Homo sapiens: one gene and its partners. The protein of the gene in region 1 interacts with the protein of each later gene in a pairwise test. Each region holds a gene or a part of one and is shown on either strand. Other genes may lie near its edges. The genes, in order: RNF10, BTG3, COL4A5 and CCDC90B.

The links.
Region 2: the proteins of RNF10 (region 1) and BTG3 interact in a two-hybrid assay, tested with the Homo sapiens proteins (one large-scale study listed by BioGRID and IntAct).
Region 3: the proteins of RNF10 (region 1) and COL4A5 interact in a two-hybrid assay, tested with the Homo sapiens proteins (one large-scale study listed by IntAct).
Region 4: the proteins of RNF10 (region 1) and CCDC90B interact in a two-hybrid assay, tested with the Homo sapiens proteins (one large-scale study listed by BioGRID and IntAct).

What each region holds. Positions count from the first base shown.
Region 1 is NC_000012.12:120,537,124-120,540,880, reverse strand, and holds part of RNF10 (E3 ubiquitin-protein ligase RNF10), read right to left. Parts: intron 1-3,757. UniProt on the Homo sapiens protein: E3 ubiquitin-protein ligase that catalyzes monoubiquitination of 40S ribosomal proteins RPS2/us5 and RPS3/us3 in response to ribosome stalling.
Region 2 is NC_000021.9:17,606,279-17,610,035, reverse strand, and holds part of BTG3 (protein BTG3), read left to right. Parts: intron 1-883; coding exon of another isoform or gene 884-891; coding exon 892-1,064; intron 1,065-3,757. UniProt on the Homo sapiens protein: Overexpression impairs serum-induced cell cycle progression from the G0/G1 to S phase.
Region 3 is NC_000023.11:108,694,838-108,698,302, reverse strand, and holds the end of COL4A5 (collagen alpha-5(IV) chain isoform 2 precursor), read right to left. Parts: coding exon 3,382-3,465; intron 3,037-3,381; coding exon 2,864-3,036; intron 2,007-2,863; coding exon 1,925-2,006; 3' UTR 758-1,924; downstream 1-757. UniProt on the Homo sapiens protein: Type IV collagen is the major structural component of glomerular basement membranes (GBM), forming a 'chicken-wire' meshwork together with laminins, proteoglycans and entactin/nidogen.
Region 4 is NC_000011.10:83,279,613-83,283,369, forward strand, and holds part of CCDC90B (coiled-coil domain-containing protein 90B, mitochondrial isoform 1 precursor), read right to left. Parts: intron 649-3,757; coding exon 529-648; intron 1-528.

The DNA of each region.
Region 1 (3,757 bases):
CTCTGTCTCAAAAAAAAAAAAAAAAAGAAAGTAAACTGGCACTCAGCAAGAAGGCTGTCTTCATTTCTTCACTTATTACCACACTGGCAAGGAAACAGTTTCATAATGCTTACAGAAATGCTCACTGATAAGACAGTAAACTGCTCATTTCCAAAACACATAACAACTGACCACATCATGATTAGTGATTTTAGTTGCCAAAATCAACTCGTTTCTCGTCTTCCAGTTACCTAAGGGTATGAAGACAGATATGTCAAGTGAGAGACTGGCTCTTATCTCTAGACCCAGGCAAAAGGCAGCTAAAGGTTGAAGGTACCATCAGGCCTGGGACCCAGAGATAAAATTCAGAGTATTATTTTTGAAATGTTTTGTGGACAACTTGCCAGGATATACATGGGAAAAACTCGAGGGTAGAACAGGAGTGATAAGATGATCCACTTTAGATTTTGGAAAACAAAAAATATCAAGTTCCTGGGAGAAGGAACTATGGGTGAAGTTTTAAATCTCAGAGTGGTGGTTCTCAATCCTGGCTGCACACCAGAATCACTTGCACAGACTTTTTAAATTATGAATGCCCAGGACCCACGGGTTCAATCTAGGCTTAAAGAATCAGAAAAAGGCCAGGCACAGTGGCTTATGCCTGTAACCCCAGCACTTTGGGAGGCTAAGGTGGGAGGATCATTTGAAGCCAGGAATTTGAGACCAGCCTGGGCAACATGGTGAGACCCCCATCTCTACAAAAAAAAAAAAGATAATAAATTCCTAGGAAGGGGCCCCACACACCCCTATTTTTTTTTTTTTTAAGTTCCTCATGAGGTCAGGAGTTTGAGACCAGCCTGGCCAACATGGCGAAACCCATCTCTACTAAAAATACAAAAATTAGGCCGGTGTGGTGGTGGACACCTGCAATCCAGCTACTCAGGAGGCTGAGGCAGAAGAATTGCTTAAACCGGGAAGGCAGAGGTTAAAGTGAGCTGAGATCGCGCCACTGAACTCCAGCCTGGGTGACAGAGCAAGACTGTCTTGAGGGAAAAAAAAAAGTTCCTGAGGAGATTCTGATGCACAGCCACCACTGAGAACAACTGCCAAGAACTACTGTCAAGACACATTCCAAAATGGACAAGACCACTAAACTCAGGCTCCAGAGTCGACAAATAAATGACTTAAAAACTTAACCCAGCTTCTCAGTTGTTCCACATTTCCCTAATGGAAAGGTCTCCACCAAGTAGCAGTAGGTATATCTCAGCCTCCCCCCATTACCAAATTAAGGGCCACAAGTTTTTCACAGTTAAATTACTTGGCATCTTCATTTCTAGCTCTAGTTCTAACAGGTGGCTCGGCCTAGAGGTCAGAATACCAGTCAGCAAGTTTCTGCTGCTGATTCATGCTGTAATCACAAGCAAGTTGCTTACCCATCATCCAGAGTAGTTGACAAGCACCTCCAGAGGGGCAACATATGGCCTTACTACAGAATCAACTGACAACAAATTGAATCCAGCTGAAATTAGTAATTCTGAATGAAAGGAAGAGAGAGGTGGTATCAGGAATGATGCACATGCCAGTAAGTTATCTGCTTGCTAAGTGTGATTATACAAAGCTTATTGAAAAATACCGCCTAGGACTTCATAAAAATTTACTTGGACAAATCACTCTTAACACTGCTAAGCCTCTATTTTCTTTTCTGTGAAACAGGACTAATATTCTACCATACTTCCTCATAGAATCATGAGGATTAAGAAAGAAAACTTCTGTAAAATGCCTACCATAGTGGCTGACACACAGTTTTACTATGATTTGAAAGCCTATCATTAATAAATCCAAAGCGTTCCTGTCAAGAGCACCCACTAGACTTCCAATGAAGCCATATAAACCAAGGAATCCAGCCAACGGGCCCTGAAATTCTTTTAATTTCTCTAAGTGGTTTTACTGAAGGCTTCAAATCACCTCAATTTTCAAAGCCATTAAAATCTCCAGGTCCATTTACAGCTCAGAGGCATTCTTCAAGGCAGATTACCACTAGTAACCTGGTTTCTGGTACCAGAATAACAGGAAGAATGCCAGGGCAGTGCTTCATACCACCAACCTCAAAATAACTGCCTCATAATACCTGACCTTCCCTTAACCTCCCTGGCAGTTCTATCGGCCCAGGGGGATGGGACAAGAGCCTGGTTCCTGGCCAGAGTCCACTGCCTGCCCATAAACGGCCTACCTTCTCTCTTGCCTCTCTTTCTTTGCTCCCTCTAAATGACTTTCCCCACTTTCTAACCCACCTTCTCTCCTCTGAGCTATATTCACAGGATATTTACTGCTGCATGTTCTCAGAAATACCTATTAACACTACTGGAATGAAGCTGTAGGAATATAATCAAGAAAAGGAATGTTATATAAATGTTCAGGCAATTAGCCCAGGCAAAGAAACTGTGGTATGCGACTCTAGCCGGAAAGATCAAGAAAATCCTGGTAGCCAAATTTACATATTTCCTGTGTACAAATGAAGGGCAAATTTAAGCCAGCCACTGGAACAAAATCTCAAAGAAATTAATCATGTAGCTAGGAAGCAAATGGCCATTAATGACAGTTTACAGAATAGAAACCAAAGGGCTTTCTTCCACGAGGTAGAAAAGGGGGAGAAAAAAAGTGACTTAAATATTTGAATACTGAAAACTCTTGCTCTTTTCACCTTGACAAAAGATAAACTATCTTTTCACCTTACGCTTGTTTTCCCCTCAACTCAGTACTCTGTAATTCAAGAGGTCCTTTCAATGATTCCCAGCAGAATCAAGTATATGAAGTGTTCAGCTTATGAGATACTGCAGAAATCTTTTTATGGGATTATGCGGAGCTTGAGTGTACCCTTTTGTTAGAGCAACCATCTCATCGTGAAGTCACTGCATCAGAGCTCCTGAGTATCTGCTGTAGTAGCACTGGTCTTAGCTGTTACGTTCCTAAGGCAGCTTAGTTTCAACTTTAAAAATCAGCCAATATCCAGTTTCCTAACCTTTTAATCTCCACATATCCTGCCTTTTAATTTGTTCCTAAATGCAAGCAGTGGATTATGGCTAGTGAAGAAGCATGGATTTGGCTACAAAGCCCATCCTTCCTTGCTAAACGAACACGCACAGCAGAAGCCAGAAAAGCAGACACTGGCGGTGGCAAACATGGTCAAGCTTTCTAACACACACATTAAACAAAAAAAAAAGAATGCTGCCTCAAGGCACATATGTGTTATTTGTAAAATCTAACAAAGGGCCTTTACATGAGTTTTTGTTTTTTTAGACGGGCTGGAGTGCAATGGTGCAATCTTGGCTTACTGCAACCTCCGCCTCCCGGTTTCAAGGGATTCTCCTGCCTCAGCCCCCCGAGTAGCTGGGATTACAGGTGCGCACCACCACGCCGGACTAATTTTTTGTACTTTTAGTAGAGACGGGGCTTCACCATGTTGGCCAGGCTGGTCTCAAACTCCTGAACTCAGATGATCCACCTGCCTCGGCCTCCCAAAGTGCTGGGATTACAGGCGTGAGCCACCGCACCCGGCCTACATGAGTTTTTACAGAAGTTTTCTTGTTTTGAGACGGGGTCTCACTCTGCCACCCAGGCTAGAGTGCAGTGGAGTGATCGTGGCTCACTGCAACCTCGAACTTCTGGGTTTAAGTGCTCTTCCTCCTCCCCTGCCTCAGCCTCTTCACAGCTGGGACTACAGGTGCGTGCCACCACGCCCGGCTCATTTATTTTTTTGTAGGACAGGGTCTCGAACTCC
Region 2 (3,757 bases), on another chromosome or scaffold:
TTCACCCATGTTGTAGCTTATATTAGTACTCATTCGTTTTAACTGCTGAATAATATTCCATTACATGTATATACCACAGTATTTGTCCATTCCTTAATTGGTAAACATATAGATTGTTTTTACTTTTTAGCTATTATGAATACTGCTGTGGGCATTTCTGTGTTCAAGGTTCACCCATATTGTAGCTTGTATTAGTACTCATTCCTTTTCATTGCTGAATAATATTCCATACGTGTGTATAACACAGTATTTGTCCATTCTTTAGTTGGTAAACATATTGTTTTCACTTTTTAGCTATTATGAATACTGCTATGGGCATTTCTGTACAAGGTTTTGGTGTGGACATATGTTTTCATTTCTCTTGGGCAAATAGAAGTAGAATTGGCCGTGTCATATGATAACTCTGTGTTTAACCTTTCTAGGAACTGCCGAACTTTTCTGTTATAAAATAGCTCTACAGTTCTAGATTTTAAAGTAGACTTTTTTTATGTTTTAAAGTTCAAATCATTTCACAGAATTTTAAACTTAGATTATTGCAGCTAAATATTGACACACACAGTAACATCTATGTCGTATCATTTATTATAGTGCTTCTCTTTTACTGATAGGTGTGGTTTTATTTTAGCCAACAGGAGCAACGTGCTATCTTTATGGAATTTCTTCATGAAGCTAAGTGATAAGATTTTTAAGTAGTATTTTATAATAAGGCCTTTATGGCATAAAGATAAGTAGATTGTTCTCTACTTCAGATATAAGCCAAAGAAATACAAGATAAAATTGGAAGGAGGAAGGGGAGAGCTGTAAAGGAGGTATATCTTACAGAGCTTCATCTTCCCAGTTTTTATATTTTGTTTTTCTGAGAAAACATGTTTTATCTTTGCAGGGAAAAAAATGAAGAATGAAATTGCTGCCGTTGTCTTCTTTTTCACAAGGCTAGTTCGAAAACATGATAAGTTGAAAAAAGAGGCAGTTGAGAGGTTTGCTGAGAAATTGACCCTAATACTTCAAGAAAAATATAAAAATCACTGGTATCCAGAAAAACCATCGAAAGGACAGGCCTACAGGTAAAGGATTAGATTGGATTAAGCAGAGGCTGATCAACCCCTGAGGTGGGTTCAAGGCCGGATGATTGAAGGGTGTGCAGACCATGCCTACAGGTGTTTCATCTGCAAAATATAGAACTCTGGGGTGTTTGTATATTTTCTCCTTACTCATTTTAAAACAAGTATTTGTTGGCGGAGTGGTGGAGTCCCACTGCCTGGACACAGGAGGCCAATGCTATGGGGTCAAAGGAGTTAGTCTTTTGTGGTTATAGCCTGGCTCCTAACAGTGCATTTCTGTTTATCACAAATACTTAGGGATTTTCACAATTCTAGAGGACCCCTAATAACACATTAATGGGCATGGTAGGAGTTGAAAGAAGTGAATCTTGCATCTAAAAGTAAATTACATGTTATATGTTCTTTGAAAAAAAAAAAAGTATGGAAAAAGGGAACTAAGATTATCAGACACCTGATATGTCGTTAATACAAGAATAATCTCATTTATATATTTGTGGTAGAAGTCAGTGTAACTATTTTCTAGATGAATGTGACTCACCTGTGATCCACGACTAGTAAATAATGGCTCTGGGATTTGCTTTTCTGGGAGTTTTTTTTTTTTGTGGTATTGTTTTTGCTCTGTCACCCAGTCTAGAGTGCAGTGGTATAACCATAGCTCACTGCAGCCTCAAACTCCTGGGCTCAAGCAATCCTACTGCCTCAGACTCCAAAGTAGCTAGGATTATAGACATGTGCCAACACACCAGGCTAATTTAAAAACAAATTTTTTTTTGTATAGATGGGATCTTGCTGTGTTACCCAGGTGAGTTTCAAACTCCTGGCCTCACGCGATCTTCTCCCTTTGCCTCCCAGAATGTGAGGATTACAGGCGTGAGCCACCATGCCTGGCCAAGGTTCTGGGATTTGAACTCAGGTCTACATGACCCCATGTTTTCATGGGCTTTCTGCACACCACAGTGTTACCACTGTTTTGGCACTGAGAACGAAGGTAATTCTCACTTGGAGCTGTCTTTTGTACTCTGCTGTATAAGGTACATTTACAGCTTAAAGTAAAGAAGAGCAGACTCCTATAAAACATGCCCTGGCATGCTCACTGTAGTATTTATGTGACTGCTCAGGAACCTCAGTTGAGAATGTTCTGCTAAACTCAGCTGCCAAACATTGTCCCATTTTGTGGATGTGGCCACGAGAAATAAAAGTGGAACAGTGACTATAGTGATAACTACAGAAATACTCTTTTATTTGTGTATATTGATGTCCCCAAAGTTTCCTACACAAATCAACACTTTGTGCTTTGATGTCAGAAGGACTTCCTTTCTGCCACTGGGCTCTTGCAAGTACAGCACTATTCAAGGAGTCTAAAAAGGAGGTAAACATATTATTTGCTAATTTCTCATGTACTGAAAGTCAAGTGAGCTTGTGTTCTATTGACAAGAAGAGAATCAAAATAGTTTATTTTCCTTTTCATTTTTAATCCAAAGAGGTTTCCAGTAAATTGGAAAATGAATTAAAATAGAAATGTGCACGCTAACACAGGCTCAAGTCATTTTTTATCTTATCTCTTGATTATCTTAATTTTTTTTTTGCATATTTTCATTTCCAATAGAGTGAACAGCTTTCGTTAAGTTAGAACTGTTGAGGCTTTTTACTCTGATTTAACTGACATTGGATGAAGGCTTTTTGGAAGTGCCAAGCCACCATACTATTACTGAAAAAGGAGGCACTGTCAAGTAAATATTTAAAGGTCAGACAGTGTACAATTTCATTTCCATTAATTCTAAAAACTTGAGAAAAAAACTGAAACGATTAAATTGGCATGTGATCAGAAGTATCATTACTGAGTCATTTTAAAGCTGTATTTGAAGTAGAAAAAATAGTGGGTTGTTACTATTATAAAAATGAATAGAATATAAGATTAACCAAGTTAGTAGAGACTTCAGTCTGTAGAATAGGTGGAGTGTTCTTTCTCTTACAAAATGTTTGTAAGTTGAAATTGTTTTTCTGCAATATAAATAAGATACTTGTAGAGAGCAATTTGGCAATATTATCAAGATCTATAAAAATATTCATACCTTTTGAACAGTAAGTCTCCCAAGAATCTATTCTAGAAGTATAATTAGAAATGCAGACGAACATGTATGAATATGGATGTCTCTTACACTTTGTAATTGCAAAAATGGAAAGAACTAAACTGTCAACATTAAGTAAATGATAGAATATTTTTATGCAACTTTTAAAATTTTGTTTTTGAAGAGTAGTTAATGGATAAGTAGTATGTAGAGTGAAAAAAAATAGTACAAAACATGTAAGGTATGCAGATTTTGTTGAAGCATAGTCTCTGTTTAAGCATCTATATTTATATATAATTTGTAAGCTTAGAGCCTGTATCACCTTAATTGTAGATAAGAAAAACACATACATCTAAGATATATCTTTTTATCCTTAACTGCTTTTGGTCCCAGAGCACATGGGATCTTTCAAATTACCCTATACAATATTAGAATCTATAGCATAAGACCATGTTTTTAAAAGGACTAAGCAGTATTTTACATACTAGAAAATAATTTTTCTCACTTTGCCTTTGTTATATTGTTAATGGTGACGCTAAGATAGGTACGTATATACAGGGTTGAGTATTAAGGAAATAACTTGCTCTTTGGAGTCTAGTGGCCTGGATTTGAACCCTAGATCCATCA
Region 3 (3,465 bases), on another chromosome or scaffold:
CTATAAATGAGAGGGAAAGCTACAAAAAGCAAAATCTCTGGAATTAGTGTTTGCGACTATAACAGAAGGGGCACCTTTGAGTGTACACCATGTAGAAGAATCTGTGGGGCTGTGATATGGTGTTTTCAGTTACAATTACTCATTACTGACTTTATGCATGGGACTAAATGAAAAAATAGAGCTAAAATTTGCGATTGGTGGCTATCCAGAATCAATAAAATAATTAGATAGTTATCATTGTTTGGATCCTAAGTTTTACCACCAGAGATTCTAAGCTTTAGATTTTACATAGGTCCATATTAGGATTTAGAATACTCAAAATTGTTTTGGTTGTTTTATCTTTTAGCTGTAACACAAATTTTACTATGGAAGTTTTTAATATTTTATTTTTAACCAGTCCTTGACTATTTTAGAGAACTATGCGTGTTCATTCTTAATCATTAAGAATATTAGGTCACTAACCTGCTTTAAACATTATTAATGAATTCTTCCCCAAATAGAAGCCAGTTGTTTCCTTTCTTAGCCATTAACACAATGTTGTCAAGAAATTTATTATCTTGGAAATGTCTTCCAATAGGTAGTTTTCTTCATTGGAAAAAGTTTACATTACTATGTTTTCTATCTACTAACAGAGTGATCAAAGCGTGGAGAAACTGATTCCCTGGGAAGAGATGACTTGTTGATGTGCAGATTGGTAATCTATCTGTAAATGAGCAGGGGTTTTTTCCACACAGGCTGAAGAGATACACAACAGACCATCCTTACAACATATATCTTTAATTAAATTTATATTGGTGGGTTTAAAAAACATTAAGTCAGGAGATGATAGCTAGGGAAATAAGGTATCCTGTGAGTATTTATAACAAAATATTTAAAATTTAAAAAGAATAAGAAACATCAATTGGCTTTTTGTAACTTAAAAGAGACTAACCAAGTGTTGTTTCCCAGTTCTGTACAAGCAGAGGCCACAGGAGGATTCTTACATAAGAAGCACAGGGAAAAGAATTGTTAATTCTGCGTGTGTGTTTTTGTTTCTCAGAATTGTTTGGAAGAACTTTGTCCAGTCAGAAATGAGTAAAAACAAGATGTAAGAAACATTAAAACAGGGGGCATATGGTCTTAAGAGATAATCTTGGAGAATATAGCAAAAGACAAATTGCTCCATTAGATATTATAATTTGGTATGTAACATGAACATTTAAAATTCTGATTAAAGTGACTAAAAGGGTTTGTTTTTTAAAAAAAATCAAAACAGAACTTACGGGATAAAACTCAAAATAAATTTACTCTCAGTAGTAACTTGATGTAGGAATATAAGTCCTCTCACTTTGATAAACATGAATATAAAATATTGCTGTCTGTATTCTAGGGTTTCCTACATTTTCTGTAAAGAGTGATTCATGCTATGTCATATGTAAATGACTCAACATTTTGAGCTAAAAGGCTGTTCACAATATACACATTCTTTACTTACAAAGCAAAATAAGCTTAACACCTTTATATTAAAAACCCGGGATACAGCAGGATTAGTAGCACCGTGAAAAATAATTCTTCCCACAAACTGCAGTCTTTTATTTTACTCAATGTGACTCTTCTCTTAATTGAATTTTTAATGTACCATTTTAGTAACTGGGCAAAATATATAATTTTCATCTTATAATTCTTGGAGAAAGTCATTCTGGACCCAAAAAGTAAATTCACTTCCTTATTTCTTTAGTAGAAAAATAATAGAGACTTTGCTCTGGCGCATTGCTGAGGTACATCTGAATCTTCATGGTTACTAGTCAGCATGTTATCTTGATCATATATAGTAGCACCATTGACGGCAGCAGTAGTAAAGTTGGGGACAATGAGACACTGCATCCTAGGAATTTTATATATATATATATCACATTTTAAAACACAAAAGGAATTCTTCAAAATGTTATGTCCTCTTCATGCACACTTGACATCGGCTAATTCGTGTCCTCAAGTCTCCTGCTTTCAGCGTTTCTGACTGAGGTTTACTGGGAAATAAGAAATAAGACAATCAGATCCACATTTTCTGGTATTTCAATTCTGTTACTGGTTCAAATTTATAACTAAACATTTTTTGTGTGTTAAGTAGCTCTCTTGGTGACTTAATGGTTTACTTTTCAGCAATATGATCTAATGCAGTGACTAGTATGGTTTAAGAGCCATTAGTGGTCATAGATATTTTGTAACGATTCTCCCCACCACTATTATCTTTGTATATTTGTGTTTCCCTCTCATTTTCTATCTTTTTCTCTTTCTCTCATACATTTTTCTAATATTCACAGGATGAGGGAAATCTGGGCAACTGATGATGTTATGATAGATAACAAGGACCATAAGAAAAATACCAAGTAGTGATAACCCAAAAGCAACACATAAAAATAAATTTAAACTGAAAAAAATCAACAGAATGAAGTATCCTGAGGTACATACATTACGTATGTCTTGCTCATTCAAACCCTTAAATGAGAATCTTTAAAATATCCTGGGAAAGGAGACCACTGGACTGAGAGGGAAAAGACAGACTGTAACTTCAATTCCTGGGGTGGTCTCAATCTAGTTGAACAGCTGCTGACTTATTAGGAAGGTCACATAACCTTTCTTTATCTCTGTTTCATTATTGAAGGATTACTACTAAGCTATCACAAACCAAACTCACCTAATATTAATAATCAAGTCTGTTTTTCTGACCTGAGTCATGTATATGAGAAGAACAAGCAAGAATAAAGTACACAATCCAATAAATTCCTAACATTTGTTGAGGATAAACCATCCATAAATTGTCTCTTTCTTCCCTAGCATCTCTGAAGGAAGCTTTGGACCTGAATTAAAGCTATAAGCACTTTACCTGAACATGTCTGACACATCTACAGTTGCCAGCCAAAAGCTGTAGGAGTTGGCATAGTAGTTACAGGTACCCCTCCCATGACATTCGATGAAGGGAGCTGAACGAAACTCTTCCAAGCAGGAACCAGGGGAGGCTAGGGCTTGACCTGAGCCTTCTGCCCCTGCACTTGTATGCTATAAAAGACAAGGAAAAATGTGCCGCAATACCCATGTGCCATAATAGCTTAGTGAATATCCAAAGATGTGTGCTGAGCTTGGCCAAATTCAAATCTAGTGAAGGAACAGGCCCAGAGGTAAGACAATAGTATCCACACCAAGGGTAGTCAAAAAAAAGTAATAGGCAGATTATGAAAATATGTTACAAAAAATGTGTGAGGGGGAACACAGTGCTTGGATAGAAGCTGTTTGAAGTTTAAGCTTCTTATTATGCAAATGACAGGGATTCCTCATATTGGGAAGAAATGTAGATGGAATGGACAGTCAGCTATGATGACAAATGCAAGGAAGAGTGTAAAATACCATCATGAAGGAATAACCAATCCACAGAGAATCCCATCCCTGAGGACAATGGGGAATCTGGATCGTCTGACTGTGAACTGCGAT
Region 4 (3,757 bases), on another chromosome or scaffold:
GGGGATCTAATATATTTTTTCCCAGTGGCTAGTCACTTATTATGTCTCATTTATTAAATAGTCCTTCCTTTCCCTAATTTGTAATGCCTTCATCACATATTAAATTCATGTCTGTGTCTCTTAATACCATTTTGTTCTATTAGTCTATTCCTTTAATATCACATAATTTAAATTACTGTTTTGATATCAGGTAATTTTTTGTGCTTTTTTTTTATTTTTTAATCTCAAACATTTGTACTTCCACACGGACTTTAGTTTAACCTAGAAACTCTAGTTTTTTTTCACTTAATTGGAATAATTCTGCACATATTATTTCATATGCTTTTTTCAATTAACATATCTTGAACATTCCCCATATCAGTAAATATTTCTCAAACAGTATCATTTTTAGTGACTATAAAATATTTCATTGTATGGATGGTACATCTATTTAGTTACTTTTGATTGTTCATAATAGTGATATTGTCTTAACTAGGCATTATGAGTGCTATTAATTTTCTTCTTTCAGGAGGTATCCATGTTTCTCACCATGAGTTTCCAAGTCCTGAACCAATGCATGGGTATCAAAAGTTAATTTCCTTTGTTCTAAAGGAGTTATATCCACTGGCCGCCTATCATATCCCTCCTTGGTTGTGGTAGTGAAGAACTCTGAAAGAGAAGACAATTTTTTTCTTTTGTAGTAACTGATAGCTTACAAAGCTACTTTAGCTTACAAAGCATTTTCCCCATCCATTTATAATATAGTTCCAGCTCTTCTAGTTTTGTCATCTCACCCAAGTTAATTGACTCCTCTGAGCCTCTCTTTTATCTGAAAAGTCTCTGACGTTCTTCTGTACACACCAAACATTCAATAAATGTTTCTTTTCCCTCCTTTGGTATTCAGAAATGTTAAGAGTCAGTATAAACTTGTAATAAAACACACATCAAATGCTTTGGTTATCACCACCTCAGCTCTAATTACTGAAAAGCAGAAACTGCACAATTCAATTCTTCTCTGTGCTCAGTAATAGTCTTTCAAAGAGCTATGAAAATTTTTTACACTTAATCCCTGTTTAAAGTAGCTTTCCATACTCCCACTCACTTATATATCCACAGTTTATTTCCTACGTAGTTCTCAGCTCCAACATGAAATTATCTTATTTGCTGTTTGTATCTCTGGATCAGAATGGAAGTTCCATGATGCTTTGACTGTGGTTTTCACTACTGTATCTTTAGCACGTAGAACAGTGCTTTGGCACATAGTTGGGCCACCAAGTTTTACTGTTGATTCAATCAATGAATTTGATTTGAAATCATGGACGTATTTACTGGTATCAACATAAGAACCCTAAGAAAAATTTCTCATTTCTGAAATAACCCTTCTTGTCCTATTTCAATAAATTCCCCAAGTTTTAACCTAGACACAGTAAAGACCTTTTCTATATATTGCTGATGAATTTATTACAAGGTGCCCTGCCCATAAACAACTTTTGGGAAGGTGAAGGAGTTACCTTTACAGAGCCAATGGCAGAATTAGGATTCAGACTCAGGTACTTCTGACTCCAAATCTTACACTCCATGCTGTCTCTCTTATGTATCTTAAGTCACTTAAAATATCTAGATATTTAAAAGGCTGCAACTTCAGGCATTATTTTTCCACTAGTACTGTGTAGGACAAATGTGATTCCTTCTTTATATCCTTCTAGCCTAATGAATATTGATTGAGTGCTAGAACTTGTGCCAGGCATAGGGGATAAAATCATAAGCAAAACCAGACATAAATGATATTCTCACTGATTTTATGGACTAGAAGGCAGGAAACAGATATTGTTTTTTTTAAAAAATCTAACAATAAACTCTAAATTCAAATGATAAAAGATTCATTAAAATACTCCAAAAAATTCTATTTAACTGAAGAGATAAAAGCAAGTAGCTGTAAATAAAGGTGGAGCAATTTTTAAAAACACACATATTAGTACACTGGTCAGTAATCTTTTTCACTTGAATGTCATCTAGAAGGGTAAAGAACTATGCCTTTGTGTGTAAATATCAGACCTAAGGTAGGAGAGAAAAAGAAAAATTAGAGGAAAAAGGGGCAGATTTCAGTAGTTTCAATAACAACTGCATTAGGAGTAATGATGGTACTCTTAGTTACATATTCCTGATTAGAAGTTTATTTGGATTTAGAAAAAAAAAATCAGTAATAATATTTAAATAATATTTTACTGTTTTCACATCTATTACCCCATCCTTAAAATTCTCATTTTATGGATGAGGTAAATTGAGGCTCAGGGCTAAGTATGGATGCTCCTCAGCTTATAAAAGGGTTATGTCCCAATAAATCCATCATAAATTGAAAATATCCTAAGCTGAAAATGCATTTAATACACCTAACCTGCTGAACATCACAGCTTAGCCTGGCTTACCTCAAGCTTGTCGAGAACACTTACGTTAGCCTATAGTTGGCCAAAATCATCTAACACAAAGCCTACTTTATAATAAAGTGTTGAATATTTCATGTAGACACCCAGATGGGCATTTTGTAAACACGATGGGATGCAAAAACAAAACCCAAAAACCCTGGCAATACTAAGTATTGGTTGTTTGCCCTTGTGATCAATGGCTAACTGGGAGCTGCGGCTTGCTGCCCCTGCCCAGTATTGCAAGAATACTGCATTATCGTTAGCTTAGGAAAGGATCAAAATTCAAAGTACAGTTTCTACTGAATGCACACTGTTTTTGCACCATGGTAAAGTCAAAAATTTTTAAGTTAAACTATCTTAAGTTGAGGACTGTCTGTAATTAGTCTGAGATCTTATGGTCTCATAGCTAGGCAGATTAGTACAGTTCCTCTGACTTAGTCAACAAACACTCTGAATACCAGCAGCTTCCTGCTAAATTTGGGATAGAGACCAAATACCTTAACAAGCCAATAAATCTTTGTAGGGTGCAGCTCGTCTCATGTCCTACTATGCTCTCTCTGGTCCTCTGCTTTCAAGGGCTCTTTGATTTTAATTCCACAAACATGCCATGTGCTTTCCCTTCTCAGGGCCTTTGCCTAGCCCCTGCCCTGTTCAGAAAGCTCTCCTTTTCTTTGCCTGCTCATGTTTATCCTTCAGAGCTCAGTCTGAATGTTTCTTCCTCTGGAAAGCCTGATGACTCCTTTAGGTTATGTCTCTCTCATGATGGTTTTTCATAGTACTGCACAGGATTCTTTTGCAAACCCTCTCATAATTTACACATTTATGTGACTCTCAGTTGTCTCCCCAAGAGACCAGCAGTCAGCCAACTATAGCCCATAGACTACCACCGCCTGTTTTTCTAGTTTTATTCATTAGAACTAGATAGTTTTATTAGAACACAGCTCATTCATTTATGGATTAATCTATGGCTACTTTCATGCTACAGTGGCAAAGCAAATAGTTGTGACTGACCTTACAGCCTACAAAGCCTGAAATATTTATTAGGCTCTTTACAGAAAGTTTGTCAACCCCTGCACTAAACTATACAGTCCTTGAGAGCAGGGACCACATCTGTTCTTGCTCACTACTGAATCCCCAATGCCTACACAATTCTGGATGCTCCATAGATACTTGCTGAATGAAAGGCACTGTGCTTGGCATTATGTATACACAATGATGAATAATACAAAGGAGAAGCATTTGGCCCTCCTTGAGAATAAAGGATCAAGAATGGCTATTTGGATGATGGTAGAACTATATTAAATCTGAGAGAAGTTATCCAGACAGGATGAATGAAATCAGCAAAATCTAGGCAT